Regions from separate parts of the Homo sapiens genome. Here regions 1 and 2 are each linked to region 3. The links come from fine-mapping of genetic effects on gene expression. A gene starts in region 3. Each other region holds a variant in brackets. All regions are shown on one strand. Distances are from middle to middle.

The links. PIP is the estimated chance that this variant, and not a neighbour inherited with it, causes the effect. A credible set is the group of variants that fine-mapping cannot tell apart.
Region 1: its variant is the best candidate, but not a certain one, in a credible set for the expression of MAP7D3 in blood mononuclear cells (TOPMed, PIP 0.90).
Region 2: its variant is the best candidate, but not a certain one, in a credible set for the expression of MAP7D3 in whole blood (TOPMed, PIP 0.50).

What each region holds. Positions count from the first base shown.
Region 1 is chrX:136,216,874-136,219,636 of GRCh38, reverse strand. It overlaps MAP7D3 (MAP7 domain containing 3), which reads left to right. Exons shown (of 19, transcript NM_024597.4): 17 at 1-44; 18 at 142-239; 19 at 1,144-2,763. The coding sequence ends at 207. Among named protein-coding and RNA genes, the nearest start is that of FHL1, 21 kb to the right of the region's middle. The variant C/T (reference allele first, on the strand shown) is at 1,684.
Region 2 is chrX:136,299,065-136,301,827 of GRCh38, reverse strand. It overlaps ADGRG4 (adhesion G protein-coupled receptor G4), which reads right to left and starts at 865. Exons shown (of 26, transcript NM_153834.4): 1 at 828-865. The variant C/T (reference allele first, on the strand shown) is at 1,449.
Region 3 is chrX:136,250,395-136,253,157 of GRCh38, reverse strand. MAP7D3 (MAP7 domain containing 3) reads left to right here and starts at 1,758. Exons shown (of 19, transcript NM_024597.4): 1 at 1,758-1,869. The coding sequence starts at 1,800. RefSeq lists a silencer at 1,652-2,041.

The DNA.
Region 1 (2,763 bases), 34 kb after region 3:
AAACCAGAAAGGCGGATGAAACCAACACCACCAGCAGATCCTCTGTTAGTATGAATTATGAGCAGCAGCGTATCTGTGACAAGATCACCAACATTGTTTAAGTCACACAGAACTATCTTTGTCACATTTTTCTCCTGACAGGCACAAACAAAATCTGAAGGATTCCATGACATCTTGCCAAAGTCCTCAGACACCTTTAGACAATAAGAGAAGAAGCAAACCTGTTTCTCCTCATTTGGGTAAGTCCTCATCTCATCTACCTTTTTCTTGAAAGGCAATTGACCCTGAACCCGCTCCCCTCCTTCTAGCCATTCCAGGGCAGTCTTTGCACCATATAGCTTTGGAAGAGAAGGAGAAGACAGTTGTGGGTCTGCAGGAATGATGTGAGAGTCTTCCATTAAGTTGGTTTTGAGAAAGTAGAGAGTAGATGACTTGATTCTAATTTTTATGTACCACATTTCAGGCCGGATATAAAAAATAAGTTCTGGCCAGGTGCAGTGGCTTACGCCTGTAATCCCAGCACTTTGGGAGGCCAAGGCGGGCAGATCACTTGAGGTCAGGAGTTTGAGACCAGCCTGGCCAACATGGTGAAACCCTGTCTCTACTAAAAATACAAAAATTAGCCGGGTGTGGTAATGCATGCCTGTAATCCCGGCTACTTTGGAGGCTGAGGCAGGAGAATCACTTGAACCCAGGAGGCGGAGGTTGCAGTGAGCCGAGATCCTGCCACTGCACTCTAGCCTGGGTGACAGAACAAGACTCTGTCTCAAAAAAAAAAATGATCTTTTCAAGCTTGCATCTCAGACTCCTCTGAGCTCCTGGTCTGCTGGTTGCTTGGCAAGCACACAGACAGTTGCTTAGGGCAGAAGATTAGGGAGGTCTTCGGAATAAGCCTCAACCTGTTTCCAAAACCAGAAGCCTCTTGTTTTTCTTTCCTTGAGAAGTTCTCTTTGAAATTGAGAAGCACCTTGGGCCTGGTTGGGGACTGGGGAAGTGAAGGACATTTATAGGACCAGTGTGTCAGCAACTCCAGAGGGGCTGCTGAGAGTCCTGGGCGTGTGCCCTGAAGGGAGGCCAGGGACAAGTTGCTGTGAGACTAGCATCTTCTCTACTGATCTTTCTTTTACTTTTCCCTCTGGTCAGATATGTAAACCTTACTCAGCCTGGGAGATGAATACATCTTCCACTCTGGATAACTCAACTCCTGGGCCCATCAGTCCTCAAATTTTTCTGCTTCTGACTTGAACCTGGTAAAGGAAGTGACACCGAAAAATTGAAAGAAACTGTCAAAAGGCCACTTTGATGTATATCTCAGATGTTAAAGTCATCTTATTCTCTTGTGTCTAAGCAAGAGTTCTAAGTAAAGAGTGGTTTTTGTTTTCTTTGGAAAATCATCATTGTCTCTCATTCTTGTGTTGTCCCACCAATGTGTTTGCTGGAGTGAGTGCATCAAGGATGCTTTCCTGAAACTGTAACTGTGGAGTTTCTAGAAGAATCTGATTGCAGAACTAATTCTCTTTCAGTATATATTTGAAATCTTAAAGTAATGCTTTTTCTTTTTCTTTTTCTTTTTTTTTTTTTTGAGACGGAGTCTTGCCCTGTCGCCCAGGCTGCAGTGCAGTGGCACAATCTCGGCTCACTGCAACCTCCGCCTCCTCATCTCAAGCAATTCTCCTGTCTCAG[C/T]CTCCCCAGTAGCTGGGATTACAGGCATGTGCCACCACACCTGGCTAATTTTTTTGTATTTTAGTAGAGATAGGGTTTTACCATGTTCACCAGGCTAGTCTCGAAATCCTGGCCTCAAGAGATCCACCCGTCTTGGCCTCCCAAAGTGTTGGGATTACAGGTGTGAGCCACTGCACCCAGCCAAGTAATGCTTTTTCTGTGTACCAGTGACAATTTTGACAGCTAAAAACTCACAGTTGATCTTGTAGAGAACAGAATAGATTATGCAAGGGCCGCAGGATCGCTCACAAGAGCTGTCAGATTGTTTCTAATATAAAAATACCAAAGGTTGCAAAATCCAGCAAATTGTATTTTACTGTGATATATGTATATTTTTAACTCTACCCATCTGTGCCAGTGAGTACACAGGCACTAATAACCTGAAATGCTGGGAGTCCTGTAAAGCCCCATCTTGGAACAGTCAGCACCTTTCATGCTCTTGTCAGTGTTTCCTTTTGAAGGACATATTGGTGTTTATCTACAGAAACATATATTATTTTTATTGTGTACATAAAGGAGTATATGGCTGTTGTCCCGTGGGGTATGTTTAATTCCTCTAAATGTTTAAAGTACTTTTCTGCCTGTACTCTCCAGTTCTGTCGTTGAGTATACACTCAGGCTTGAGATACAACCAAAATTTGCTTGCCTTTCTCTAGCCACTGGCTGCCAGTGAGTTCGTGTGATGGGCACACAGAAATGCACACAGATGTACATACACGTATGTATGCACACACAGTATATGATTCCATAAAATTCAAATGCAGATTAATTCTCCTAATGAGTTTTCAGTGTTGAATCGTAAATAGTCTGAAGCAGGCCAGTGTTCCTTTTGGCTGCCAGTCTTGGATTAGTAAAAGGAGGTAATTCTTTCAGATTCCCTGGTTCTTTGCCACTCAGAGTATTGTACTTTTGATATAGAATAGAGAAGGTTACCTTTGGTTTAAAAACTATTTTTATATACTAGCTCTTTCATGTATAAAACAGAGACAATCATCCTAACAAAAGAGTTCCTGTTATTTTTCTGCACAAATGTCTTGTGTT
Region 2 (2,763 bases), 49 kb before region 3:
TAAACGGTGCTGGGAAAACTGGCTAGCCATATGGAGAAAGCTGAAACGGGATCCCTTCCTTACACCTTATACAAAAATCAATTCAAGATGGATTAAAGACTTAAATGTTAGACCTAAAACCATAAAAACCCTAGAAGAAAACCTAGGCAATACCATTCAGGACATAGGCATGGGTAAGGACTTCATGTCTAAAACAGCAATGGCAACAAAAGCCAAAATTGACAAATGGGATCTAATTAAATTAAAGGGCTTCTGCACAGCAAAAGAAACTACCATCAGAGTAAACAGGCAACTTACAGAATGAGAGAAAATTTTTACAATCTACCCATCTGACAAAGGGCTAATATCCAGAATCTACAAAGAACTCCAACAAATTTGCAAGAAAAAAACAAACAACCCCATCAAAAAGTGGGTGAAGGACATGAACAGACACTTCTCAAAAGAAGACATTTATGCAGCCAAAAGACACATGAAAAAATGTTCATCATCACTGGCCATCAGAGAAATGCAAATCAAAACCACAATGAGATACCATCTCACACCAGTTAGAATGGCGATCATTAAAAAGTCAGGAAACAACAGGTGCTGGAGAGGATGTGGAGAAATAGGAACACTTTTACACTGTTGGTGGGACTGTAAACTGGTTAAACCATTGTGGAAGACAGTGTGGCAATTCCTCAAGGATCTAGAACTAGAAATACCATTTGACCCAGCCACCCCATTACTGGGTATATACCCAAAGGATTATAAATCATGCTGCTATAAAGACACATGCACACATATGTTTATTGCAGCATTATTCACAATAGCAAAGACTTGGAACCAACCCAAATGTCCATCAGTGATAGACTGGATTAAGAAACTGTGGCACATATACACCATGGAATACTATGCAGCCGTAAAAAATGATGAGTTCATGTCCTTTGTAGGGACATGGATGAAGCTGGAAACCATCACTCTCAGCAAACTATCGCAGGGACATAAAACCAAACACCACATGTTCTCACTCATAGGTGGGAATTGAACAAGGAGAACGCTTGGACACAGGAAGGGGAACATCACACACCGGGGTCTGTTGTGGGGTGGGGGGAGTGTGGAGGGATAGCATTAGGAGATATACCTAATGTAAATAACGAGGTAATGGGTGCAGCACACCAACATGGCACATGTATACATATGTAACAAACCTGCACGTTGTGCACATGTACCGTAGAACTTAAAGTATAATAATAAAAAAAAAAGAAAGAAAAGAAAAGGCTCTAGGCGGGGCCAGGCATAGCAGCTCCAGCCCAGCAGCAGTGGCAGGGCAGCGGTGGCGGCAGTTCGCTGGAGGCCCGGCGCCCGCCGCAGCCCCTCCCCGGCGTGATGCATGGAGACCCGACCAGCCGCTCGACGCTGAGCCCGGAGTGGCCTCGGGCTCTGGCCTGCCCGGCCGCCCGAGGGCTGTG[C/T]GCGGCCCGCGGGCCTCCCGGCTCCCGCGGATCCGTGACCCGGCCGTCCTGTCCCAGGAAGTGGACGTCCTGAGCGCCACGGCTCACTCCCTGTGCAGTCGGGCCTGCCTGGCATGCAGAACCTAAAGGCAGATCCAGAAAGGTTTTTTTTGTTTTTTTTGTTTTTTCCCTCTCCCTTCAGGTGCACTAAGATAGGGAAGCTAAAAGCAGACTTGGGGTGTATGCTTGCAGCTGCAAAAAAATATGTATGGGAACAAACACACAACTATCCCTCCCAAATAAACACAACAAAGAAACACAGAAGCAGTCCAAGCCTCTAATAAACTCTCCCACCCTGAATCCTTAAAAACTCTTAGTCTGTAAAAAAGTGTGCCTCTAACCTAACTCAGCCAAAAGGCTCCTCTCGGGTTTGTTTTCTTTAAAATAAACCTGTCTTAACTGGCAAGCCACCTTTCATGTTTCTTTCCTCTTTCTTTAATTCTTGCAGTAGTGACCAAAATACATGAATTTTTCTTTCATGTATTTTTATTATTACCTAGAGGAAGATATATCCAATAAATGAAATTTAAAACTCTCTTCAAAAGATTGTATCAATACTTTCTTAATTATTTCAAGGAAGAGCCCTAAAATATATATATATAACCATAGTTATATTATGAATTCTGCTTTGTGGTGTTTTTTCTTTTTTGTTTTTTATTATTATACTTTAAGTTTTAGGGTACATGTGCACAACGTGCAGGTTTGTTACATATATATACACGTGCCATGTTGGTGTGCTGCACCCATTAACTCGTCATTTAACATTAGGTATATCTCCTAATGCTATCCCTCCACACTCCCCCCACCCCACAACAGGACCCGGTGTGTGATGTTCCCCTTCCTGTGTCCATGTGTTCTCATTGTTCAATTCCCACCTGTGAGTGAGAACATGCGGTGTTTGGTTTTTTGTCCTTGCGACAGTTTGCTGAGAATGATGGTTTCCAGCTTCATCCATGTCCCTACAAAGGACATGAACTCATCATTTTTTATGGCTGCATAGTATTCCATGGTGTATATGTGCCACAGTTTCTTAATCCAGTCTATCATTGATGGACATTTGGGTTGGTTCCAAGTCTTTGCTATTGTGAATAATGCTGCAATAAACATATGTGTGCATGTGTCTTTATAGCAGCATGATTTATAATCCTTTGGGTATATACCAAGAAATGGGATGGCTGGGTCAAATGGTATTTCTAATTCTAGATCCTTGAGGAATTGCCACACTGACTTCCACAATGGTTGAACTAGTTTACAGTCCCACCAACAGTGTAAAAGT
Region 3 (2,763 bases):
CAGAGCTTCGGGAGTTATAATGCCAAACTGTTTATTTTTGCCACTAGTTTTTTTTTTCTTCGAGACAGAGTCTCGCTCTGTTGCCCAGGCTGGAGTGCAGTGGCAGCTCTCGGCTCACTGCAACCTCCACCTCCCGGGTTCAAGCGATTCTCCTGCCTCAGCCTCCCGAGCAGCTGGGATTACAGGGGCCCGCCACGACGCCCAGCTAATTTTTGTATTTTTACTAGAGACGGGGTTTCCCCATGCTGGCCAGGCTGATCTTGAACTCCTGACTTCAGGTTATCCACCTGCCTGGGCCTCCCAAAGTGCTGGGGCTGGGATTACAGGTGTGAACCACCGTGCCTGGCCCCCCACTTGTATTAATCTACATCATCGCAAACACTTATTGACCACGTTTTAATTTTTGTTAAAATTGTAGGTGCAACGTAATGTCTTTTTTTTCTTTTTCTTTTCTTTTCTTTTTTTTTTTTTTTTTTTTTTTGAGACAGAGTCTCGCTCTGTCACCCAGGCTGGAGTGCAGTGGTGCTATCATGGCTCACTGCAAACTCCACCTCCCGGGTTCAAGCGATTCTCCTGCCTCAGCCTCCCAAGTAGCTGGGATTACAGGCACCCACCACCATGCCCGGCTAATTTTTGTATTTTTAGTAGAGTCGGAGTTTCACCATGTTGGCCAGGCTAGTCTCGAACTCCTGACCTCAAATGATCCACCCACCTCAGCCTCCCAAAATGCTAGGATTACAGGCATGAGCCACCGTGCCTGCCCCATATTACATATTATATATATTATATATTAATATATGTAACTTATGCTATCATTGCTAACATATGTAATATATGCTATTATTAGCTTCTTCCATTTTACAGCTCCCATGTCATTTGGAGACTCAGTGGTCTCGCCAAAGTGCCCATCTCACAAGTGGTCCAGCCCCATTTTGGGATCTCCTGCACCACACTTAATGGCCCCAACCATAAACTGCGTGCCTACAACTATGTCACTACACACACACTCACAACAGTGGTGACTCCACCTCATAAGGGCAAGCCCCCATGAAGTGAGGTCTGCCCCTTAAAGGAGCCTCAGGCCAATGACGGTTTTCCTTGTGAATGGGAAAAACATTCTGCAACCTGGTAGAGTCTCTCCCAAAATCCGGAGAGATTGATGCCAATAAGTCCTCTGCCTCTCTTTGAAGACTCACAAACATCTTAAAGATATTTCACCCAACTTTGAGACCTATGTGTCATGATTTATTGTGCAACAGTTTAGGGAAGCCTACTCATGATGGGGCCCCTAGCACCTCAAAGCAAGCCTGCGACTCCCAACCTCTCCCTAGGCTTCTTCCCCCAACTTGGGTCTTTCTTTGTGTAATGTTTCAAGGACTAGTAAACTCATGATACAAGCGCACCCAGGAGGCACGCCGTAAATGTTCTTTAAATGAATGAATGAATGAGGAAGGAATGTTACTGTGTTGCTAGGTAAAGGTGAAGAAAGGAATGTTGGGGGGGCCAAGCTGGGTGCTGATTGGCTAGTCCTCACAATGCAGTAGGGGCAGAGCACGGAACATAGGAGAGGGTTTCTTTAGACCAGGTAGTCGCTGCCCAGCCGGTCAGGACGTGGGACGCAAGGGGCAATCCTGCCCGGTTCGCAGGTCCGAGGCGGGCGCGGTGGCCCTTCGGGCCCCGCCCCGCCCCGCCCCGCCCCGCCCCGCCCACCGGCAGCCCGGCCACGACCCAAGCGGAGGCCGCGCCGACGCCTGCGCAATGTATGCGGAGAGCCACCACCGCCTCCGGTCCCGACTCCGATGATGGCGGACGGCGCCGCAGCTGGCGCTGGCGGCAGCCCATCCTTGAGAGAGCTGCGGGCACGGATGGGTGAGCGGGCGGGTGGCTCCCGGGGGTGGTTCGGGCCCGCGTGGGAGGCAGGGTTCCCGCAGTCCCCGGGCCGTCGGAGCGGCGCAGCGGGCGCCACAAAACTTTTCCCTGGAGTCGCCTCGTGCTATCTGGTCCTCCCCTCACCCCCGCCGGAGTGCCCTGGGATGGGACAGGGGCGGGGGCGGGGGGTTGAAATTGTCAGCCGACGCCGCGAGCCGCCTGAGTCCCGCCGCCAACGGTCGAACTGCCGCTGCCAACGGTCTGAGCCCCGCGGACGCGGCGCGAGGCAACTCACGGGCTCTGCTTCGACGGGCGGGGCGGGGGCGGCTGGAAGCCGGACCCCGCGGACCGCCCCGTGCCCCATCTGCCCTTGGGGGGCGGTGGCCGCCCGCGCAACCGCCCCAACGAACGCACAGCTGCCTGGGATGTGCGGGCGCCCGCAGGGACTCCGCGCGCCGGCGCCGCCTCCGCCGCCAGGCAGCCTTTCCAGGCACGGAAAGTTTGAGTTATCCCCCAGCCCGGGTCGTGGGCGAGTTTAGGCGCTTTTACTGTCGCAGTCCTTGCCTCTCCCAAAGGCTTACCTCCTGCACCCTCCCGGTCAAGGTCCAGGGAGGAAGCTGGGTGAGGGTGGGGATGCTTAAAAGTTGCTTTAAAAGTTGGGATGAAACTTGGCTCTTTGCATCTCCTGATTTGCCTGCTGTAGCACATGACTTCAACAAGATGTCATCTTCTGTGGGACATCTTGCAGTCTCTAGGCTGAACTGAACGGGAATCAGCACTTCAGAGTGCTTTTTCCTCAACTAGTCCCATCGCCAAAACGTTTTTCCCTCCTCGAAAACCGTTAATCTTATACAATTTGACAGCACATTGCTTGGTCCAGGAGACTGCTCCACT